Regions from separate parts of the Homo sapiens genome. Here regions 2 and 3 are each linked to region 1. The links come from fine-mapping of genetic effects on gene expression. A gene starts in region 1. Each other region holds a variant in brackets. All regions are shown on one strand. Distances are between the middles of the regions.

The links.
Region 2: its variant is fine-mapped to the expression of PEX7 in atrial appendage (GTEx, PIP above 0.99).
Region 3: its variant is fine-mapped to the expression of PEX7 in monocytes after Pam3CSK4 (Quach 2016, PIP 0.95). The same link has a PIP of 0.9 or more in monocytes after LPS and monocytes after R848.

What each region holds. Positions count from the first base shown.
Region 1 is chr6:136,817,986-136,826,169 of GRCh38, reverse strand. It overlaps PEX7 (peroxisomal biogenesis factor 7), which reads right to left and starts at 3,578. Exons shown (of 10, transcript NM_000288.4): 1 at 3,375-3,578; 2 at 899-956. The coding sequence starts at 3,504. RefSeq lists enhancers at 2,968-3,127, 2,509-3,241, 3,242-3,974, 3,858-4,007 and a silencer at 3,298-3,677.
Region 2 is chr6:136,959,360-136,967,543 of GRCh38, reverse strand. No RefSeq gene overlaps it. Among named protein-coding and RNA genes, the nearest start is that of NHEG1, 30 kb to the left of the region's middle. The variant G/A (reference allele first, on the strand shown) is at 4,104.
Region 3 is chr6:136,790,093-136,798,276 of GRCh38, reverse strand. It overlaps MAP3K5 (mitogen-activated protein kinase kinase kinase 5), which reads left to right and starts at 5,800. Exons shown (of 30, transcript NM_005923.4): 1 at 5,800-6,567. The coding sequence starts at 6,120. RefSeq lists enhancers at 4,720-4,799, 5,170-5,229, 5,340-5,569, 6,360-6,429, 6,535-7,050 and a silencer at 5,590-6,229. The variant C/T (reference allele first, on the strand shown) is at 4,657.

The sequences.
Region 1 (8,184 bases):
TAAGTAGAGTAGGTACTTGACAAATATGGCAACAGATTCAGAAAGGTTAAAAAAAACAGTCCAGTGGAATGTAGTAGTCCAAAAATGTAATAGTACACAGTATACTGCTCCACATTTTTTTATGTTTAAATTTTATAATTTATGAGTGGACACTAAGAGACAGGCTTCAGATTTGTTTTGTTTTTTATTTGAGAGAAAGAGTCTTGTTCTGTCATCCAGGCTGGAGTGTAGTGGCCCAATCACAGCTCACTACAGCCTTGAACTGGACTCAAGCAATCCTCCCACCTCAGCTTCCCAAGTAGCTGGGACTACGGCCTAAAAATTAAAAAAATTTTTAGGCTGGGCCCAGTGGCTCACGCATATAATACCCACTTTGGGAGGCCAAGGTGGGCAGATCACCTGAGGTCAGGAGTTTGAGACCAGCCTGGCCAAAATGATGAAACCCCATCTCTACTAAAAAATACAAAAATTAGCCGGGTGTGGTGGCGGGCACCTATAATCCCAGCTACTTGGGAGGCTGAGGCAGGAGAATCACTTGAACCCAGGAGGGGAAGACTGCACTGAGCCAAGATGGCGCCACTGTACTCCAGCCTGGGTGACAGAGCCAGACTCTGTGCATAAAAAAAAAAAATTTCTTTTAGAGACGGGGTCCTCCTATGTTGCCCACGAGGCTGGTCTTGAACTCCCGGCCTCAAGTGATCCTTCTGCCTCAGACTTGGGAATAGCTGGGACTACAGGTGCGCACCACCACAATCAGCTAAAAATAAGCTTCATCCTATGCAAACGCCAAGGTTCCTTTTATACTGTATATTAAAACATTAATCAAAGAGTCAAAACCTAATTCTATTAAGGCTTTAATAGCAACAATATATACCTTTAATAATTTCAGCCCCCTTACCTTCTAAAAAGCCTTAGCCCAGCTTCATCTGGATCCAATATTAGTAGGGTTCCACAGCCTAAAGAGAAAAAAAATCAAGGTCATCCCTTTGAACCTGCCAGGGTAACATCGAAAGTCAAGGAGTTATCAAGTAATTGATACCTGATTTTAATACCACAAATTTTTCCCCAAAGTATTTGGGACCTTGAATACCAAATGGTCAGGTGATCAATTTCTCCCTAAAGTTTTTGGGACATGAATACCAAATGTGTTCTCTATTTCTGTTTTTCCATATTGTACTTCAGTTACTAAATATTCAACTTCCCATTGCACCTATGATTGGAATTCAGACATGGACCTAACAGGGGGGTGAAATACTTAAGGGCCTACTCTGTAGCCAGACAAGGCACCAGAGACACAAACCTTCCAAGTTGGTGTTATCATTCCTACTGACAGATGAGAAACCTCTGGCTTACAGACCCCAGGGACTGCACTCCTCACCAGTAAATCTAAAACACATCTCACACAGGATTTTAAAACAAAATATGAATGCGGAGATACTTGGTGGGATTTACTACATAACTGGTGGTAATAAAGTGCTGAAAACAGTATTAATATGTTACCTGTCAAAGATTATTTTACCAAAGGGCCATTGTATTTTAAAAGTTATGTTTACTTTTTATAGAGACCAAGGGGGAAAATCTCTTCTATTTAAACATGACTGAATTTTTTTTTTTAAATACCAATTCCCTTTAAAGAGTTTTTGCATAAGATTTTAAGTAGCATTACAGGCCAGTCACAGTGGCTCACGCCTGTAATCCCAGCACTTTGGGAGGCCAAGGCAGGAAGATCGCTTGCACCCAGTTCCGGACCAGCCTGGGCAACATAGTGATACCCTGTCTCTACAAAAATAAAAAATCAAAAATTAGCCAGGTGTGATGGTACATGCCTGTGGTCCCAGCTACTGGTGAGGTTGAGACAGGAGGATCATATGAGCCCAGGAGGTGGAGGCTACGGTGAGCTGTGATTGCACCACTCTACTCAACCTAGGCAACAGGGTGAGACCCTGTCTCTAAAGAGAAAAAGAAAAAAGAAAAAAAGAAAACTACTACCATTATAGACTCATGAGTCTTCAGTCTAACTGGTGGGCCATGTAAATCTGAATGTGCAAGCACTAAGAGCTAATAATGAAAATAAATCAAGTATTTCTCTGAGTTTTAGAAGTAACATTTTTTTCTGCTGTAGGACAAAACAAAAAAATACAATAGACCACTGACATTATGAAATGAGTTTTTGCATCTCGCTTCAGTGCGTATAATAGCTAGGACATGAATTAAGGCAAAAGCGAGAATGAACCTACGCCTTTTCATCTAGTCCACGGACTAGATGGACTCTTTTTTTTGAGACGGAGTTTTGCTCTTCTTGCCCAGGCTGGAGTGCAATGGCACGATCTCGGCTCACCGCAACCTCTGCCTCCTGGGTTCAAACTATTCTCTTACCTCAGCCTCCCGAGTAGCTGGGATTACAGGCATGCGCCACCACGCCCGGCTAATTTTGTATTTTCAGTAGAGATGGGGTTTCTCCATGTTGGTCAGGCTGGTCTGGAACTCCCGAACTCAAGTGATCCGCCCACCTCGGCCTCCCAAAGTGCTGGGATTACAGACGTGAGCCACCGCACGGCGCTTGGCCTTTTTTCTTTTTAAGACGGGGTCTCAGTCTGTCACCCAGGCTGGAGTGGAGTGATGTGATCTCAGCTCACTGGGCTGGGGCAGAGTGATGTGATCTCAGCTCATTGTAGCCTCAACATCCCGGGCTCAAGCGATCCTCCCGCCTCAGCCTCCTGAGCAGCTTTAACCACAGGCTGAGCCAATGCGCGCGACGGGAGACAATTAACTGGAGTCTGTAACACCTACTTGCGAATGTGTGCATTCCTCGTTAGACAACTACAGGTAAGAACTGAACTTGATATATTTCATGGTGTCACCCGTGGGACTCCAGGCGTCCATTCAGGAGCATCGTCCTTAGGAAGGCCAGCCCGCAGGTCGCAGCTCAGTGCTCGAATGCAGACTGGGAATTGTGGGCCAACTCGCGAGCCCTGGGTCGGTTCTGGCTCAGACCGTCTTCCCCGTACTGCTGTGCCGAGCGGACCGATCCAAGGGACCGCGCAGGCTCCCCCGGCTCTCCCTACGGGGACGTGTGCCTGGGCGTGTGACACGTGGCGGAGGCAGCGCGGTCTCAAGGAACAAGGACACGGGCTACTAGGCTACACGTATATGCACTTGCACACAACTGGAAGATCGACTCCTGCTTCAGACCAACTCCTCGCACTCGGCAAAGAAAGGAGAAGCGCCGACCAGCGCCTCTTCTGCCCCCTGGCGTGGACCCGCGGAACCGTCTACGCTCAGAGGGGCTTTCCCTCGAGCGCGAGGAACTGGAGCCCGGCTGGCCCCCGCCTCCGCCTCCGCCCCCCGGCCCCAGCTGCGCGGCGCCGCCTCACCCGCGATGCCGTAGTGCTGCGCGGTGGCGCAGGCCAGGCGGCCCGGCAGGTACGGGGAGAACTCGGCGGCGTAGCCGTGGCGTCCCGGCGTCCGCAGCATCCGCGCCGCTCCACCGCACACCGCACTCATCCCGCCCGCCGCCCCCGGCCCTCGCTGCCCCGGCCGCGGAAGCCGTTCCGAGTCGGAGGCACACTGGCGCGGTTAGAGAGACCAGGCAGACCGGACGGAAGTGTGGGCCCCGTGCCCTGTGTTTGAGATTCTGATTGGTCCGCACAGGAAAGGGCGTTGACTCCGACGGAGACCATTTTTGTTTTGGGTGAATCCAAACTGAATTGCGCCTGCTGCAAAGATACAGATCTATCAGGGGAGTGATCCAGGGTTAGGTATTATTAATAATTACGACAGCTTTTGTCGTTGCATCTCAGCCTCCTCTGCGGTGCTATCTGGTTTTTATTTCATTGAGCGTTTGGAAGACTGGCATCAGGAACTTTTCCTGATGATTATAAAGTGAGAAAAGTTACAGCCGACTCTGAAACCACGCAGCGCGTCCAAAATTGCGTGCTGCGTTGCCCAAGGAAACTGGAAGCAATGAGAACTTAAGTCCGTGGAGTCACTGCGGTCTTTAGGAATAAGAGCGTGGGCTGGTGGGCTACTTTCACACTGTAACTGGAAAAGATGAAACACCAACTCCAAACCAACTCCCCATGCTTGGCAAGTGAGAAAAAGGAGCTGGCCAGTTCTAATGAAGCTAAGCAAAAAAGCAGCACATCATCATATACAACTTTTTTAAAAAGTATTACTATACATGTATATATTGTATGGTAATAAGTGCTCAGATGCTGGTGCTCATTCATTCATTTATTGCCAGGCATATACTATGTGGAGAATGACCAAATATAATTTATCTGCCAAACCAAGATACTTTTGAGAGTAAAGAGGGTGTAATTATTAAGCCAGGTCAACAGGCACAAACCAAGTCGTATGATCATCTTAACCATATACCAAGAACAGTACTAGGCATTTGGGATTCAAAATAATGGGATATGGTCCATGGCCTCAAGAGATTAGAGAAGAAGACTAAAAGAGAAGTCATGTAATTAGTTAAGTGTAATCAAAATACTGTAGAGGCTATGATAAATTTATATGGGGTATTTTTAAAAGGTGATTGTCCGTGCCAGAGGTATGGAAATTGCAGGAAAGGCTGCAGAAGAGAGATAAGTCTTTATGGTGATTGCACACAGATGAGTAGGTTTTCTTTAGGTAGACAAGAAGATGGAGATCTTTGTAGGAGCAGGAATAACATGAGCAACCCAGGAGATTTAAACCAGCATGATCCATAGGGGGTCGTGGCTGCCAGGACTCAGCCTGGCCAGATGGAAGGGATACGGTGAAAAAAATATTGGGTGGGGAGACTGTAGAGTGTTTTACTGGGGCTAGATCATGAAGAGTCTTATATACCATACTAAGAGAATTGGATTTCTACTGTAAACAGTGAAAAACAGTGGAAGTTTTCTAATGTGAGAAATTAAATGACCAAGGTTTTATTTTAAAAAGTCCTGCAACACTAATATGGAGGATAGAGTTTGGAGATGGGGAGGCCAGTTAAAAGACTTTTGCAGGCCGGGCGCGGTGGTTCACACCTGTAATCCCAGCACACTAGGAGGCCGAGGCAGGCGGATCACTTGAGGATCCAGACCAGTGTGGCCTCTATTATTTTGGATTTTTATCATATGTAGTCACTGGAATGTATGCTGCATGAGGGCAGAAATTTTTGCTTGTTATGTTCGCTGTTGTATCCCAAGGACCTGGTATTTAAGCATTCAGGAAATGTTGAGTGAATGCAGCCTAATACAGTGCCTAAATGATCAGTGTGTTTTTCGTAATACTACAAAAAGTAACCTGGAAACATTCTGGAGTTTATTGAAATGCTAAATAGGCGTTAATAAAATATCAAAGTAAGCAAACATGAAGCAGCTGGGACCTTGGCAAAGAGTTGTATATAAAGAGTTATCCAATCTAAGCTAAAAATAGTGTGGTATCTCTGGGAGGGAGAAAGGCTGGTTCCAGCTGGGGTAAACTATTTACAGTGACCTTGGACATACACACACACACACAAACTGAGCTATTACCTGCTCCTTACCTAACCATACATGATTATAGCATTGTAAAATATTTCATCCCACCTGTGAAGCTTTCTAAAATATAAACAACTAAACATATAAAAAATAAACCATACTCTTACACTAGATTTTGAGCATCTCGAAGTAATGTCCAAGTCTAATTTGTTTGTGTCTCCAGTACCTTGAAGAATGTCCAATATATAGTAAACACTGCACAAATGTTTGACAACTTGAGGTGAACTGGAAAATTAAGGAAAAGGAACATGAAATGCTCCTTAGATTCTCCTTGTCCCCTGCCCTTGCTCCACACCCCTTCCTCCACCCATGCTTTACTAAGTGGAGTCCAAGTTTGCTAGGGGTATGGATAGAATTGGAGTTAAGAATTGCCTGGAAGGGACGGGCATGGTGGCTTATGCCTGTAATCCCAACAATTTGGGAGGCCAAGGCAGGCAGAACACTTGAGGTCAAGAGTTTGAGACCAGCCTGGCCAACATGGTGAAACCCTGTCTCTACTAAAAATACAAAAATTAGCCAGGCATGGTGGTGGGCACCTGTAATCCCAGCTACTCTGGAGAAGGCTGAGGCAGGAGAATCGCTTGAACCCTGGAGGCAGAGGTTGCAGTGAACTGAGATCACACCACTGCACTTCAGCCTGAGCGACAGAGCGAGACTCCGTCTCAAAAAAAAAAAAAAAAAAAAGACTCTTTTTGTTGTCTTCCACCTGTTCTTGTCATTGTTTAGGAGTACTTGGTATTTCCCAACTGAGACAGAAACCATTTTTTATGAGCATTCATTACACCTCAGAGTTGTGTAACTTCTAAACTTGGCCAACTCTGTGGAAGACCATTTAACTCTGTGGAAGGCCTAATAATGTAGGCAGACATGGCTAGATGTCAGGTTTCTATAAGGATCTACAATTATATTTAGATTGTTTTGTTTTATAACTGCTATGGTGACCTCACAAAGACTCTAACTGCAAATATTTACCAACCCACATCATTTTTAAAACTAGTCTATCTTTCCCATGGAGAGAGACCAGAAGTAAAATAATTGAAATACGTGGTCTTTCTACCCAGGTGAATCATTATCCTAGGTAAATCGGCAGGCTGCATATGGTAGTTATGGGAAATAATTCCAAGAAAGGATGGATAATTTCATTGTTCCTTTTAGCTCTGCACAGCATTGTGCTGGGTACCTAGTTAGCCTTTAATCAATGTTTGCCAGAGGGTTAATGTAATCATCATCCAAGAACTTTAAGCACTATCTTCAAATATATGATGGATACTTGGACTGATGCACTTTAGAGACCCTTAAAGCTCTGAGAGTCTCTAATTATGGGCTAATTGTCTACCTTGCTCGTTTTATATCATTCATCACTTATTATTTTAGTTATACTTTCTTGTTAAAAATTTTAGAATCTGTGGTAATGTAAAATGGTGCAGCTGATATGGGAAATAGGATAGCAATTGCTTAAAAAATTAAACATAGAATTACCATATAATCTCGCAATTCCACTTTTGGGTATATATCTAAAAGAATTAAATGCAGCAATTCAAACAGATATTCGTACACTCCTGTTTGCAGCAGTATTACTCATAATAGCCAAAAGGTGAAAGCAACCCAAGTGTCCATTGGCAGATGCTATGGTCTGAAAGTTTCTGTCCCCCCCAAATTCATATGTTGAAATTTAATCACCAATGTGATGGTTTTAAGAGGTGGGGTGTTTGAGATGTAATTAGGTCATAAATGAGATGATTACCTTTATAAAAGAGGCTGGAGAGAGAGCCCTCTTACCCCTTCCACCACGTGAGGACACGGCAAGAAGTGAACATCTATGAACCAGAAAGTGGGACCTCACCAGACATAAACCTGCTGCTGATGGCTTGATGATGGACTTTCCAGCCTCTAAAACAGTGATAAATATATTTCTGTTGTTTATAAGGTACCAAGTTTATGATAGTTTGTTATAGAAGCCTGAACCAACTAAGACAATAAATGAACACATAAAGAGAATGTAATATATGCATATGGTGGAATATTATTCTTCCCTAAAGAGGAGGGATATTCTTACATGGATGAACTTTGAAGACATTATGCTAAGTGAAATAAACCAGGCATAAAAGGACAAATACCGTATGATTCCACTTATATGAGGTACATAGTGTAGTCAAATTGATACAGACAGAAAATAGAATGGTGGTTGCCAGGGGCAAGGGGAAGTGGGGAATGGAGAGTTATTGTGTGACAGGCATGGAGTTTCAGTTTAGGAAGATGAAGTTCTGGAAATAGATGACAGTGATTGTATAACAATGTGCATATACTCAACATCACTGAAATGTCTGCTTAAAAATGGTTAAAATGGTAAATTGTATGGTATGTATATTTTGCTACAATAAAATTAGAATCTTAACTAGAGTGTTGGTTTAGGACATACATTTACTGCACTTCTATGTGGAAGGAGAGAAAAAAAATATAAGAGCAATTGGTATAATCTGATCATAGTAGAAAATGCATTTAGTCTTTTCGTCTTTTTCTGGAAAGACAGCAATTAAGAGCATGGTGTTTAGAGTCAGAAACCTGGGATTGAAACCAGGCCTTATGCTTTTTAGCTTGTGTGGTGGAAAGTGTGTGACATCTATTTATCTACTTTCAGCTCTTGGGTAGGATTAATATTTTAGATGATGCTGCA
Region 2 (8,184 bases), 140 kb before region 1:
CATAGTGGCTCTAGGGGTGCACACCACAGCTTCCTATGGTAGGTCCCTCCAGATTCGGACCCTATGTGCCTGTGCCTGTGTCTATGCCGGTCAGCAGCATCATCTTCTTCCCTCACAGATGTGTCCCTTTTCCTTCTGCATGCCCCACTGCAGGGAAGTAGAAGGTTGGAGGACCAATGTACAGGAGCAGGGGTGACTATGTGTATCTGATCTAGTGTAATCCCTGGGTGTGGTTCTAGGAAGTTTGTCAACCTTAAACTAATTTACTTCCCTATCACTAATTCACGAGTTCTATTGACTGAACAAAAAGTGCAAAAAAAGAAGGTAGTGAATTCATCAATCATAGAAAAGGGCTATATTAAGCTTACTGTACAGCTCAAACTGATATTTACCTAAGCACCTTCCCCAGACAGCTATAAAAATAACTGTTGCCATCACAAAGAGAAAGAAAACGACCTAACTGTTCTGGTTAAAAGGTGATGAGGGGCCAGGTGTGGTGGCTCGCGACTGTAATTCCAGCACTTTGAGAAGCGGAGATAGGCAGATCACCTGAGGTCAGGAGTTCAAGACCAGCCTAGCCAACAAGGTGAAACCCCCATCTCTACTAAAAATACAAAAATTAATTGGGCGTGTGGCACATGCCTGTTGTCCCAGCTACTTGGGAGACGGAGGCAGAAGAATTGCTTGAACCTGGGAGGCAGAGCTTGCAGTGAGCTGAGATTGCGCCACTGCACTCCAGCCTGGGCAACAGAGTGAGACTCTGTCTCAAAAAAAAAAAAAAAGAAAAGGAAAGAAAAGAAGAAACAAGGTGATGAGGAGAAATCATCTAGAGAAGGGAAAGAGATGGAAACATAAACAAAATGAAACATACTAAATATTCACTACATGATCTGGAGCAGAGGATAGAATCACCTGCACATCACAAACCTGTACTTTCTGAGGAGAAGGATTTACAAACTAACCCATTCCCAAGTGAGGCTGCTTAGCCACATGCAAGATGTAGCGTCATGGGAATTCATCCGGGCAGTCGCCTCCCAGGTCTTGTGAGCGCCACCATCCTGTTCTGGTCCCTCGTGTGCAGTGAGGCACAGATAGATATATGAAATTTCTAGAATAAGATCTGGAAAGAGCCACATCAAATGGTGACAGTGGTTACCTTGGGGAATGGAGGTGGGGAAAATAAGAATAGAGAGAGATAATTAATGGGAACATTAACCTATTACATCTTTTTTTGTTTGCAAACAGAATGTATTCATTTATCACTTGTGTGATTTTTTTAAACACATTAAAGATATTACAAAATCCAGTAGAAGGAGTATGGACGTAAGTTGTACTACTTGGCCTACCTGGGCCCCAGCTCTGTCTATATCTTACTGGTGGGTCTAGCTTTGGGCAAGACACTAAAATTCTTGAGCCTCCATTTCCTCATCTGTAAAATGAAGGCATTAATATGTAACTCACAGGGTTGCTGTATTGATTGAGATTATAATAGCAACTGAAATACAGTTGGTCCTTAATAAATGCTTAAGAAAAGAGAGATCGTGGTTGGACACGGTGGCTCATGCCTGTAATCCCAGCACTTTGCGATGCCGAGGGAGGTGGATCTCCTGAGGTTGGGAGTTCGAGACCAGCCTGACAAACATGGTGAAACCCTGTCTCTACTAACAATACAAAATTAGCTGGGCATGATGGCACATGCCTGTAATCCCAGCTAACCGGGAGGCTGAGGCACGAGAATCACTTGAACCCAGGAGGCAGAGGTTGCAGTGAGCCAAAATCGCGCCATTGCACTCCAGCCTAGGCAACAAGAGCAAAACCTGTCTCCAAAAAAAAAAAAAGAAAGAAAGAAAGAAAGAAAAAGAAAAAGAAAGAAAGGAAAAAAAAGAAAAGAGAGTCCATTACCCAGATCAGAGGTGATGAAGGCTTATAAAGATGGTGGCAAAGAAGATGAAAAAGAAGAGAAAGATGGGAGAGACATTTCAGAGACATGACAGAAATGAAGGCGATTTGCCAACAAAGCCAAGGCTTAGGACCCTGCACCCCCATGCTATCCCAAGCTGACCTTTGTGCCTCTTTTCTCTTTCCAGGCTGCTAGGATGTTGCTGTTGTGTGAGAATATGAAGGGGGATGAGAAAAAAACAATGGAATGGAATGAATTCAAGACCAAATAAAGTCCGTGGTGAGACTTTTAAATATTCATATTCGTCAATGGCAATTTTGTAAAAGAATTTGCAATGCCCCTACTTTCTGTAAATGAGTGGGTACCCCCATCCTAGGGATATCCTCATCCTAATACCTCTCTTTAGGACAGCCTGTCTCTCCCTCTAAGCCATTCTTGGTGGAGATGATACCATCTTCCAGAAGACAAAAATTGTTCTTGGGAAACAAAAATATCTTACTATGTTAATGTGTAAGGCACAGATACACACAGAGTACACACGCAGATAAGCAGTATGTTTGTGGTATTGAATTTTGTGGGGAGGATATCAGAAAAAAAATCTAAAAAGGTTCTTTAGAGAGGTGACAAAAAAAGTCAGGAAACTCTAGTCTATACCCTAATCACCTTTGGAGCAGGGATTCTGAATTCACGTTCACTGTGGAATTCTCCTTTGGGAATGTCTCCATTGTGGAATGTCTCCATTGTGGAATGTCTCCACTGGGAACATTCAATGGGCTGAAATGATAAACAATGTGAGCTGGCTTCCTTGGAAGTCACTTAGGTAGTGAGGTGTTGTGGCCAATCTCGTGAAGTAACCTTATAAGTTACTTCCTCATGAAGTAACCTTAAAAGAGAGCACCTTCTGGAAGCTCCCCTAGGCCTCCCCTCCAGTATCGTCTCATTTGCCTGACTTGAATGAAGTGCCTTTTCCAGAACCAATCACAAGCAAGGGACTGAAATACCCCTGAGACCTGCAGGACCTGGACCTGGAAGTGTTGGCTTCCCCTGAGGCACAGACACCGCCCAGGGGCAGGGGAGTGGCAGGGACCCAAATAAAATGAGGGTTCTATAAGGAAGGAAAAAGGAATGAATAGACTTTGGTCTAGGTGGGGCAGAAAATGGTGTCCATGTAATTACTGACTCAAATGTTCCCAAACAGTTTTGTTAAGAGAAACAGGCTTCTACCTTGTTACCTCCATATTTTATTAGCTTTTGACAGAGCAAACAATTTTTAAAGTTGTGATTTTGGTCACATTTATTTTGGCTAGCTATTAATTTAGACACTCGAACCATAGTTGTATCTTTTCACATCATATGCATTTCACAGTATGTTGTGGTCTCTTATTTAAGCAATGTGAGAGGTGAGAGAGAGAGCACGCGTGTATGTGTCTTAGGATTTTTCTGGGGACAGGAATAGCATGTTAAATAGGGAACATGGATCTGAGAACCTGGGGACCAAGGCTATTATTGCCTTCACTTTACTGAGTTAAGTGGGTGACAGCAGGCAAGTTAAGTGGGTGGCACCCAGTCCTCTGAGCTTTGATTTTCTCACTTCTTATTAAATAAAGAAAAGATTATCAAAGTCTCTGCCATCTCCCAGATTCTATGTCTTGGAATTTGCTTTTTTTTTAAGCTATATTATAGATTATAGAAGTTTGTAGGGTTTTATTTATATTGTTGCTTTGGCTAACTATTTGGAAGCTTATTAGTAATTATTTCTGATATTTTGAACAGAAGCAAGCTCTCAATTATAATATTGTTTTGATGGAAAAATATAATCTATTTAACTATAAAACCTTGTCACATCACAGTATCCAAGAAGAAATATTTGCACCATCAGATGAAGCCTGCTATATTCAGTTTTAAATGAACACATTCAATCTTTTGGCAGGATGGATGGATGGATGGATGGATGGCTGGATGGATGGATGGATGGACACACAGATATCTGAATGAATACATGTTCTTGCTGTTTGATCTTAGGTATAATTCACAGGTGACACTGAGGAAATTAAGTGGCAGGTGTATGTCATTCAGCAATTAGGAACGGTTGGACATTGTCCCTATTCTAATAATAGGCCTATGGATGGTCTGCAGCTTGAGTCCACATCAGCAGCACACTCTATTTGTCAGCTTCCCAAAGGACATTCTGGCATTTTCATTA[G/A]ACTCTGCTTTCTTTCTATTAACACATCTGAACAGAATGTGCCCTTGCAAAGGGAGGCCAGTGACAGCATTTAAGTCTGTAATGTCAAAGAAAATCTCCAGTGGTAGATACACTTCCCTGGTCTCTTTTCCCTTAAGGATTATGAGATTTATATACCTAACGAGTCAGAGTGTGTTTTCTTTCTATGCAGTATCCCATATCCAAATAAATAATGAAATAAATACATAAGCACAAACACCACATGCACCTTTTGCCATTTACTGAGTCAGTAAGATTTTGACATTAGTAAGAGCAGCAATGAATTATGAATGTTTCTAAGAGAAATTTTTAATCCAGGAGGACTTTTTAAAAGGCACTTTTCGATTCTGGCCTAATAGATTAGTATAATCAAATAGCTGTTGTTTAAATTATTTAGTTATTCCCAACTAATATATAAAGCCCAACTGACAAAAACCAATTCTAAAATCCAGGCTGAAAAACTCCACTGTCTACGCTTCCTCATACTCCCCATTCAGTGGAAGATCTACACTGTCAACACCACATTGTGATTGTTGCTTTAGCTGCCACTTCCTGCAGCTGCCATCTGGCTGATTAGAAGTGGGGAAGGCCTATGGTGACAAGCCCTCGGGGCATTTTTCCAACCCTTTAGGAAACAGAAGGAAACGCTTGGGACTCTAATTACAGACTAATAAATAGTTCAAGCAGCCTTAAAAAGAAGAGGTTGTGGGTCCGAAAGGAGTTGATCCCTTCATCTACCATATTCCACACTCTCTCTTAGTGCCCCTTTTTCATTTTAGAAGATTCCCTATTCTTTTCTTTTTTGTCTTTCCTTTCTTTGTTTTTTTTAAGATGGAGTCTCACTCTGTCCCCCAGGCTGGAGTAGAGTGGCACAATTTCAGCTCACTGCAACCTCCACCTCCCAGGTTCAAGCAATTCTCCTGCCTCAGCCTCCTGAGAAGCTGGGATTACAGGCGTGTGCTACCATGCCCGGGTAATTTTTGTATTTTTAGTAGAGATGGGGTTTCACCATGATGGCCAGGAGGGTCTCAAACCCCTGACCTCAGGTGATCTGCCTGCCTCAGCCTCCCAAAGTGCTGGGGTTATAGGCGTGAGCCACTGCACCCGGCCCTTTCTTTCTTTCTTTCTTTTAGTTACAAATCTGAATGGCCAACCCATGGCCCCACTGTTAGAACCTAAGCATTTCTGCTCTGCATCACGCCTATGACCCTACCCAATGATTCATTTATGAGTGTCTATTATGCACCAGGTGTGGAACTAAATGATGGGAATTCAAAGACAAAGTAAAATCTTGCCTTGAAAGTACTTAAAACATAATCGATCCAATACCCTTCACTATCTTTATTTATCTGCATCTCTCTCTCTCTCTCTCTCTCTCTGCCACTGTTTATTTTGGCTCCATGTAGCCCAGAAGTTAAGAATACAGGCTCTGCGCTCAAATGGGACTCGAATCTCAGTTCCACCTTCCATCCCCACACGTCCAGAGTTCTTGTCCTGTTCATATGTTCAGTAACTTACTCATGGTCACACAGCTTTTAAGAGGTGGAACCAGAAAGGGACAGAGCCATGATCCAAAGCCAAGCAGTCTGACTTCTGATTCCATGCACCAAACTACAGTGCTTGTTAAAAACTGGGGAAAATATTTCAATATCTGTATCAGACGAACGGTTAATATTAAAACCTTTTCTGCTTTTCCAAAATACACACATGCTATTTTTCACTTAAAAATGTATAATGTAAAGTTCCTTCCAGGTTCTTACTATACTTTTTTTTTTTTTTAAGATAGTCCCACCCAGGCTGCAGTGCAGCAGCGCAATCTTGGCTCACTGCCACCTTCACCTCCCAGATTCAAGCAATTCTCATGCCTCAGCCTCCCAAGTAGCTGGGATTACAGACATGCACCACCACACCTGGCTAATTTTTGTATTTTTAGTAGAGACAGGTTTTGCCATGTTGGCCAGGCTGGTCTCGAACTCCTGGCCCCAAGTGATCCTCCTGCCTCGGCCTCCCAAAGTGCTGGGATTACAGGTGTGAGCCACTGCACCCAGCCTTAATATACATTTATATAATTATTTTAATAATTTAAAAATCCTATATACATGTAATCCATATAGTCCAGCTATACATATATGTATAGCATACATATACGTATATCTACAAATATATATGTATTATATCATAGTATTTATTATTTATATGTTTATAAATATATATTTATATATTTAACCAATCTCCATTGTTGAGCATTTAGGCTGTTAACAATTTTCACTAGTATAAATCACAGTGGCCATACTCCTGATAAACACAGGTATATCTATGTCTATTTATTTCTTCAGGATAAATACCTACAAGTAAAATGCCAGATCAAAGAATATTCACTTTCTAATACTTTTAAGAGCTGAAGCCCAAGCGCCCTTCGGGAAGCCTCAAGCCAACAGGATGTAAGAGCATCTGCTTCCACCACACCCTTGCCAATGCTGATAAAATTTTGTCAGACTGAGAAGTAGAAGCTTTTCAAATATCTGTTTCTATTGATTAATAGTTGAACATTTCTTTGTTAGGTAATAATCATTTGTAATTCTTTTGCAAATTGCCTTTCCTGTTTTTTTTTCTAATAGAGTTTTGAAATTTTTCTTATCGATTATAATTTTTTCCTTATTATTTATATTAACCTTTTGTCTGATACAGATGTTGAAATATTTTCCCCCAATTTTTAATAAGCTTGGTAATGGAGAATTTTTTTGCCCTATAAAAGTTATATGTGGCTGGGCACAGTGGCTCACACTTGTAATCCTAGCACTTTGGGAGGCTGGGGTGGGCAGATCGCTTGAGCCCAGGAGTTCAAGACCAGCCTCAGCAACATGGTGAAACCCAGTCTACAAAAAATACAAAAATCAGCTGGGCATGGTGGCATGCGTCTGTGGTCCCAGCTACTCCTTCTAGGGAGGCTGAGGTGGGAGTATCACTTAAGCCTGGGAGATGGAGGTTGCAGTGAATCCTGATCCCGCCACTGCACTCCTGCCTGGGTGACAGAGCGAGACCCTGTGTAGCAGGACGAGCCGCAGACAAAACTCCTCTGACACTGGGTTAAAGAAGGAAGGAGCTTTATTTGGCTGGGAACTTCAGCAGACTTGCATCTCAAAAGCCAAGCTCTCCTCACTAAGCAATTCCTGTCCATTTTAAGGGCTTACAACTCTAAGGGGGTCCGTGTGAGAGTGTCCTGATGGATTGAGCAAGCAGGGGGTACTGCATGCACCAGTAATCAGAACAGAACAGAACAGGACAGGGATTTTCACAGTGCTTTTCCATACAATGTCTGGAATCTATAGATAACATAACCGGTTAGGTCAGGGGTCGATCTTTAACTACCAGGCCCAGGGCGCGGCACTGGGCTGTCTGCCTGTGGATTTCATTTCTGCCTTTTAGTTTTTACTTCTTTCTTTGGAGGCGGAAATTGGGCATAAGACAATATGAGGGGTGGTCTCCTCCCTTACCTGTACCCGCCCCCAAAAAAGAAAAAAATGATATGTGTGTGTACACGAGGCAGGATATTTGCCTGACCCCTTTGTGGGACTCGAGACAGGGGTGCATCGTTTACTCAGCCCACAGCTCTCCACTCCTCACAGGAGGGAGTGCACGAGCAAACAAGGCGGGGACTGGAGTGCACGAGGCCTGGAACTGGCCAGCCGCTTCGGCACCAGCAAGAGCAAGCTCTGTGCGGGCCCCATGGCAACATCCAGGTGGGGGTGCCTGTGACACCTGGAGCCCCAGAGGGCGTGTTACAGTGCTCTCTTAGCTCTGCTGTCCTCTGATGGCTTAAGTGTTAACAGCTCAGTGAGCCCTTTGCCTCGTCGTGTGAGACGACTGCCCTCCACCAGCGAGGGCAAAGGGCCAGTGTGACAGCCTTTTATGTCCACACTTGTGGCTCCCAAGCTCTTGTCTGGCATCCAGGAAAAATGAGGTCGCATGAACGAATTGAAGGATGGTAAATGCAGGGGATTTTATTGCCAAGGAAAGTGGCTCTCAGAGGAAATGGGAGCTGAAAAGGGGATGGGGGGTAGGT
Region 3 (8,184 bases), 28 kb after region 1:
AACAGATGGCAAAAATTTCAGTTCACATTCTTGCTCTGATTCCACCATGCTACCGTGCATTCAAATATTTGCTTACATTTACAGATCTTATATTTGTAGAAATAATTCATGGCCCAAGATGATGTCATCTTCCTCTGGAGTGAATTTTGTTTCTCAAATGCAGGGAACTACCTTAATACAATTTTAGGGTTTGAGACTTCTTTCTGGGTTACTCAGATGAATGGAAGCAGGATTGCTGTCCACGTACGGGCCATCTAACCTATAGTTCACTCTTACTTGTAGGGTATATCATCTTTAATTTTGTCCTCAAGATGTTATCAAGAATTCAGTTCAGATAAACACAGGCACAAAAATCCTCAACAAAATACCAGCAAACTGAATCTAGCCGCACATCAAAAAGTTAATTCACCCCGATCAAATAGGCTTAATTCCTAAGATCCAAGGTTGGTTCAACATATGCAAATCAATAAATGTGACTCACCACATAAACAGATTTAAAAACAAAAACTAGATGAATATCTCAATAGGTATGGGAAAAGCTTTTGATAAAATCCAACATCCCTTCATGATAAAAACCCTCAACAAACTAGGCATCAAAGGAACATACCTCAAAATAATAAGAGCCATTTATGACAAACCCAGAGCTAACAAATACTGAACAGGCAAAAGCTAAAGACATTGCCCTCAAGAACAGGAACAAGACAAGGATGCCCATTCTCAGTATTCCACATAGTACTGGAGGTCCTAGCCACAGCAATCAGGCAAGAGAAAGAAATAAAAAGCATCCAAATAAGAAAAGGAGTCAGATAATCTCTCTTCCCTGAAGATAAGAATCTTTTTTTTTTTTTTTTTTTTTTGAGACAGAATCTCACTCTGTTACCCAGGCTGGAGTGCAGTGGCACGATCTCGGCTCTCTGCAACCTCCATCTCAAGTAGCTGGGACTACAGACTACATGCTCAGCTAATTTGTTTTTCAGTATTTTTAGTAGAGATGGGGCTTCACTGTGTTGGCCAGGCTGGTCTCAAACTCCTGGCCTCAAGTGATATACCCGCCTTGGCCTTCCAAAGTCCTGGGATTACAGGCATGAGCCACTGCGCCTCATCCCCTGAAGACAAGATTCTATACCTAGACTCCACCAAATGGCTCCTAGAATTGATAAACAATGTCGGTATAGTTTCAGGATACAAAATCAATGTATAAAAATCAGTAGCATTTTCATATACCAATAACGTTCAAGCTGAGAGACAAGTCAAGAACACAGTTCCATTTATAATAGCCACACACACACACACACACACGCACACAATCTAGGAATACATCCAATCAAGGAAGTGAAAGATCCCTACAAGGAGAATTACAAAACACTGTTGAAGGAAATCATAGATGACACAAACAAACAGAAAAATATTCCACGCTGATGGATTGGAAGAATCAATCTTGTTTAAATGGCCACACTGTCCAAAGCAATCTACAGATTCAATGGTATTCCTAAGAAACTACCAACATCATTTTCCACAGAATTAGAAAAACTATTCTACAATTCATATGGAACCAAAAAGGAGCCTGTAGAACAGCAGGAAAAAATAAAATAAAATAAAATAAAACCCCAAAAGAGCCTGAATAGCTAAAGCCAAAGCCAGAGGCATCATATTACCTAACTTCAAACTGTACTATAAGGCAACAGTAACCCAAACAGCACGGTACTGGTACAAAAACAGACACTCAGACTGATGGAACGGAGTAGAGAACTCAGAAATAAAGCCGTACACCTACCGCCATCTGATCTTCAACAAAGTCGATAAAAATAAGCAATGGGGAAGGACTCCCTGTTCAATAAGTGGTGCTGGCTAGCCTTATGCAGAATAAAACTGGACCCCTACCCATCACCATATACAAAAATTCACTCAAGATGGGTTAAAGATTTAAATGTAAGACCTCAAACCCTAGGAATCATAGAAGAAAACCTAGGAAATACCATTCTAGACATCGGCCTTGGGAAAGAATTTATGACTAAGTCCTGAAAAGCAATTTGCAGCAAAACGAAAAACTGACAGACGGGACCTAATCTAAACAGCTTCTGCACAACCAAAGAAACTATGAACAGAGTGTGGTGTTACGATATATATTGGTTTTCATCTGTGGTTTCTGGCTTGTAACTCCCATAACCCTCGTTATAGTCTTCTGTTATGTTGAGTGTGTTAGGCCTCAGAGGCAGGCCTCTAATTTTTTCCTGCTCTCCTTTTACCTGCTAACAACCCCCCACCTTTCTGACTGTGGGTCTTAAGACCTTCCCAGGAGAGGGTCCCATTGGATACACATGGACATAAAGATGGTAACAACAGACACTGCGGACGGGAGGGAAGGAGGGAGCAAGGGTTGAAAAACCAACTGTTGGGTGCTCTTTCTACTACCTGAGTGACAAGAACAATCGTACCCTAAACTTGAGCATCATGCAATATATCCATGTAACCTGCACATGTACCCCCGAATCTAAAATAAAACTTGAAATTACTTTAAAAAAAGCACTATTTTGCACAGCTCAGTGATTTTTAGGAATTCATGTGTGCCTTCACAGTGGGAGTGACTGTGCTCCTCCCAGAGTATTTTCTTCATGTACTTCTTCAAATACCTCCTACACTTCAGAAACTTCTCCAGATTTTCTTTATACCCTTCAACCAAAACAACATGCTGCAACAGCATGAATGTAGAAGCAGAAATGAGAATCCACTGTCATCTATTAAGCCAGACATTAAAAAGATTTGTGAAAATGCACAACGGTGTCACCATTCTTTTTGTTTTGTTTTGCAAAATACCGTTATTTTTCATTAAAAAAATTCACTTCAGCCTTTCAGCTGCCTAATTCAGATCCACAAAAATCCCACAGCCAAAGGGAACCCTGACTGTAGACTCACCCTCTGGATTCCTGTCCTTTCTTCCAGAATCTTGCCAGCTAGTTCCTCATTATCTCATAACCCTATGCTATGGAACATAAATTACCTAAACCGTGCCTTTTAGGTAGAGGGAGAATCTCTGGACCAGCTAGAAGCAGAATTTCAACATTGTATTGGGGTTTGGGTGCCTAACATAAAAAACATATTTAAAGTTAATAAATCAAAAAAGCCAGCAAAGTAAAACAAAAAATAAAAATTGTGTATGAAAATGGCTCTGAAAGGATCTGGAAGGAAAGCACAAAGTGAGAGGGTATAAAAAGTTACAGCTTTGGAAAATAGCTTGATATATAATTTCAGATTTTGTATTTCTACAGTAAAATGCTACTTGAGCATTTAGGCGTTTTAGTTTTCCACACATGAACCTCATCGATTTCCAGAGTTTGTGGTTCTTGGTGAGGATAGCGGGGAGGATTATCTTACTCCTACAAGGTTTTGGAGGTTTGACAAGTTGTTGAAAATATTAAAAGGCACATAACTATTACTAGCTCAGCAACATTTTGTTTCAGTATAATCACTGATTCACTACCTATTTTACTATTGATATTAATTCCAAAAGCTAGTGTGGGTCACATAGATTCCATTTTACATGAAGAATATAAAGTTTCCTTACTAGAAATTTACTTCTATTATTTTATACACCTTTAGAAAAATCTAATGTCACATTGATTCATTGATACAGTTGTGTAGCGGCTAGGTGTTTTTCCTCATGACTATTTCCTTCCTTCCTTTAATTATTATTTTTTTTTAAGATGGGGGTCTCACTATGTTGTCCAGGCTGATCTTGAACTCTTGGGCTCAAGCAATCCTCCCACCTTGGAGAAAATTAAAGAACTCTTTCCTTTAATTCTTTTTCTTTTTCTTTTTTTAGATGGAGTCTCGCTCTGTCGCCCAGTCTAGAGTGCAGTGTCGCCATCTCGGCTCACTGCAACCTCCACCTCCCGGGTTCAAACGATTCTCCTGTCTCAGCCTCTCGAGTAGCTGGGATTACAGGCGGCTGCCACCACGTCCAGCTAATTTTTGTATTTTTAGTAGAGACGGGGGTTTCACCATGTTGGCCAGGCTGGTCTTGAACTCCTGACCTCAAGTGATCTGCCCGCCTCGGCCTCCCAAAGTGTTGGGATTACAGGCGTGAGCCACTGCGCCCAGACTTTCCTTTAATTCTTTACTATTCAGCTATTTTATCCTTCCTTCTTACCCAGTTTGAAATGTAATTCATGGCTGGGCTGGGTGGTTCACGCCTGTAATCCCAGCACTTTGGGAGGCCGACGCGGGCATATCACCTGAGGTCAGGAGTTAGAGACCAGCCTGGCCAACATGGTGAACCCCACACCCCTCCCCCTCCCGTCTCTACTAAAAATACAAAATTAGCCTGGTGTGGTGGCGCATGCCTGTAATCCCAGCTATTCGAAAGGCTGAGGCAGGGGAATCGCTTGAACCCGGGAGGCAGAGGTCGCAGGGAGTCGAAATCGCGCCATTGCACTCCAGCCCGGGCAAGAAGAGCGAAACTCCGTCTCAAAAAAAAAAAAAAGTAATTTACATTTTCTTCTGCCTTTTTCACAGGACTCACTAGTCTCAGTTCCTGGAGATGGGAAGTACAAAACCTGTTTCTTTACTCAGTTGTAACTTGCACTGGCTTTCCTAACAATTACAGCATTCTGGGGTTCTCTGGGAACTTACACATCTGTTCTTTGCTCCCCAAATAAG[C/T]AGGTACTTTTTTTGATTGCTCTTAAACAATCTGGGTATTTCCCTCCCGGCCTCGCGTGATGCAGTTTAAAAAATAGAATAGGTCACGTTATTCCCCTGTTTCATCTTGTTGATAATTTGTGGAGTCGGGTAGAGACTCCATCTTCTATCTTAAGTATCTGGCGCTTGTGGGGGAATTAAGATCCTAAATGAGAATACTAAGTCCTTCGGCAGTTGGCACTAATCAATTACTCATTACTGATAACGGAATGAGCCACTGGAAATTTTAAAAGGAAAAGTACATGGGAGAACCTGATCAATTTAGCCAGCCACTTCTGGAGTGCCACAGTCACTAATGAAGCAACCTCCAGTGCAGGCCCTGGCTCCAGGGCGCTATGTACAACCTCCTGCCTCGCGCAACGTGGGTCTCCCGGAGCCTATCCTGCCAGCGCCGCGCACGGTCCCAGTCCACCAGGCCGCCAAGGCCCGGAGGGGGGCGCCCTAGTCGCGGGGAACACTGGAAATGCTTCAGGGGCGGACTCCGAAGACCGAGTATTGCCTCGAGGGACTTTCTGCGCCACCCCGTAATCGCTTGCGCTCCAGGTCTTCGTAGGTGGGGGCCGGGTGGGTGAAGACTGGGACCCTATGCCACGCGCAGCACTCAGAGGAGGGCTGGGGTCCCAGGGCCGCAGCGCGGTCAGTTCAGTCCGGGCTCGAGCTTCCTAGCAGCGCCCTCCTTGGGGGCTGGCCCTGACCCTCGGTGCCGCTACGAGTGGGTGGCCAGAAGCTGGTGGTGGAGAGGGAGAGCGTCTGCAAGGAACGACGAGGCTGGCGCCGGGACCACGCGGCGGAGGCGATCGAAAGAGAAACGAGGCCAGGCAAGGAGGAGGAAATCCACCCGATGAAGGCGAGCTGCCGCCTAAGAGGGAGGAGGGTCCTTTCGGCTGCCGCTGCTGCTGTTCCGGGACGCCGCCTGGGGAGCCAGCCCGCTCGTAAGGTGCGCGCCAGGTAGCTCCGCACCCAGGGGGCGCCCTTCCTGGCCCCTCCCAGAGCGGCCGGGACGGAAGGAGCTGCGCGGCGCGGCGCGGCGCGGCGCGGCGGGTGGCGAGGGCGGGCTGCACCCCGAGCGCGGCGCCCTTGAGCTGCACCGCGGCGCAGGTTTGCGAGCCGACTTGTCAGCCGGCCAAGAAAAGGAAGCTCCGTCCCTTCCCGCTCACCCGGCTTCCCCACCCCTTGTACTCTAAACTCTGCAGAGGGCGAGCGGCGCGGCCACGGAGGCGCCGAGGAGGAGCGAGCCGCCGCCGGGCAGCGGCGTGCCCTCGGGGGAGAGGGCGCCGGAGAGGAGGCGGCGGCGCGGCGGCGAGGGCGCGGCGCGCGATGGCAGCTGCTTAGCCCGGCGGGCGCGGAGCAGCCCCGAGCTGTGGCTGGCCAGGCGGTGCGGCTGGGCGGGGGACGCCGCCGCCGTTGCTGCCCGGCCCGGAGAGATGAGCACGGAGGCGGACGAGGGCATCACTTTCTCTGTGCCACCCTTCGCCCCCTCGGGCTTCTGCACCATCCCCGAGGGCGGCATCTGCAGGAGGGGAGGAGCGGCGGCGGTGGGCGAGGGCGAGGAGCACCAGCTGCCACCGCCGCCGCCGGGCAGCTTCTGGAACGTGGAGAGCGCCGCTGCCCCTGGCATCGGTTGTCCGGCGGCCACCTCCTCGAGCAGTGCCACCCGAGGCCGGGGCAGCTCTGTTGGCGGGGGCAGCCGACGGACCACGGTGGCATATGTGATCAACGAAGCGAGCCAAGGGCAACTGGTGGTGGCCGAGAGCGAGGCCCTGCAGAGCTTGCGGGAGGCGTGCGAGACAGTGGGCGCCACCCTGGAAACCCTGCATTTTGGGAAACTCGACTTTGGAGAAACCACCGTGCTGGACCGCTTTTACAATGCAGGTGCGTGTGTGACCCCTTTCCCATCCCGCGCGGTCGGGACCCGCGTTTAATCTGGCGGTCTTCGGGGCATTTCATTTTTCTGGGCGGGAAGCATTTACTTCTTGCCCCACTTTGGGGGCAGCGAGCGCCGCTGCGTGACTGCTCCTGTCGCTCGCCGCTCCGGAGAGAGCGTGTGTGCTTGTGCAAGAGTCTGTGTGTACTTGTGCGATAGACCTATGGATCCACCCACCGCCCAGCGCTGGAGCCCTGGGTCCATGCGATCGACTTGAACTGTTCTCCAGCAGTGTGAGATATTTGCCCCAGTCAGTCTTTCTCCTTTCAGTGTCTCGGTTTCGCTTCTGTGAGGTTTGGTCCCTGTTTTCTTTCTGCATATACCTGTGACCGTTTTAGATGAGGTTCTCCTTTTCTCTGTGTAGTTTTGAGAGTACGGGAACGATGACATACCATGCACGCAGAGTGTAACTATATTAATTTGCATGCCATGTGATGATCTTCCCAACTCACCTTACCTTCGATAAGTTTTAGTAGCTTGAATTTCCTCTCACCAACCCAGACTTTGAAGTAATTACAGTGCTTCCAAAGGCAATAACATTACAACTTACACTGAACTTGTGTGTTATCTTTGTAAGGATTTTGGTGAAAGAACCAGGGCCTGTTTTTTATTACCCCATAAACCATGGTGGGCTAGAAAGTTTGTAATTTAACATTGTCTAAAACACCTGTATGCTATCCTAATAATAAGATTAGTTTCGCCATTAAAGTGATTGCTAGCATAATCCATGAAAGAAATGTATCTTTCAACCTATCTCAAATTTCAGAAAATGTTAAGGCAGTTCTAGTAACTGAAGCACTTAGCTGTTAGCAAATGTTAGGAATAATACCATATTATGGAAATTAACCTTTAGTCCCCTGTACGTCCAGTGTTGAGAATATATACATATTTATGTTTACATTTGTGGGTAAAAACTTGGTTTAGTAGTTTCAAAACAATACACTTCTTGCATTTGTGATCACATAAAAGGCTTTATTTTCCAATCTTGTTTTCAATTCTGATTCTCTTTAGTGTCTTCCAAACACCTGAAGTGGGCTTATGTCAGTTTTGGAATTCAGCCAAAGCTGAATATTTTGAGAACAACAAGACCTTCATGTTAAGGAAGCCAGACTAAATAAACTAGGACTTTCTCGTTCTGGTATTTTTAAAATAGTTTTGGTCTTCATAACTGAGCATGGCTATAATATAGCTTGATTCTTTGGGTAGCTTGCTATAAAAGTTACATCAACATAACTTTTCTAAAAATTGTAGCACTCTTATTTTTGGATTATAATTTGGAAGAAACTTCAAAGAACTAAAAGATATGAGAGGAAAATACCCAACTGAACACTTGAGCCTATTTTTATTGCACTGATTGGGCGTTTTTTTCCTAGGGCTCTAGAAAAAAAATGTTAAACTCTAAGCTAATTTGAAAGAAACTTTCCTAACAAGGCTTGGTTTCTGTTATTCTCCAAATACTGTCTCTGGGAAAGGGAGAGAGAATGATTAGAAGGGAGCTGAAGTTTGAGTGTATTTCATTGAATCCTCCAAACAAGCCTGTGAAGGAAGTACTTACCTTCTTAGGT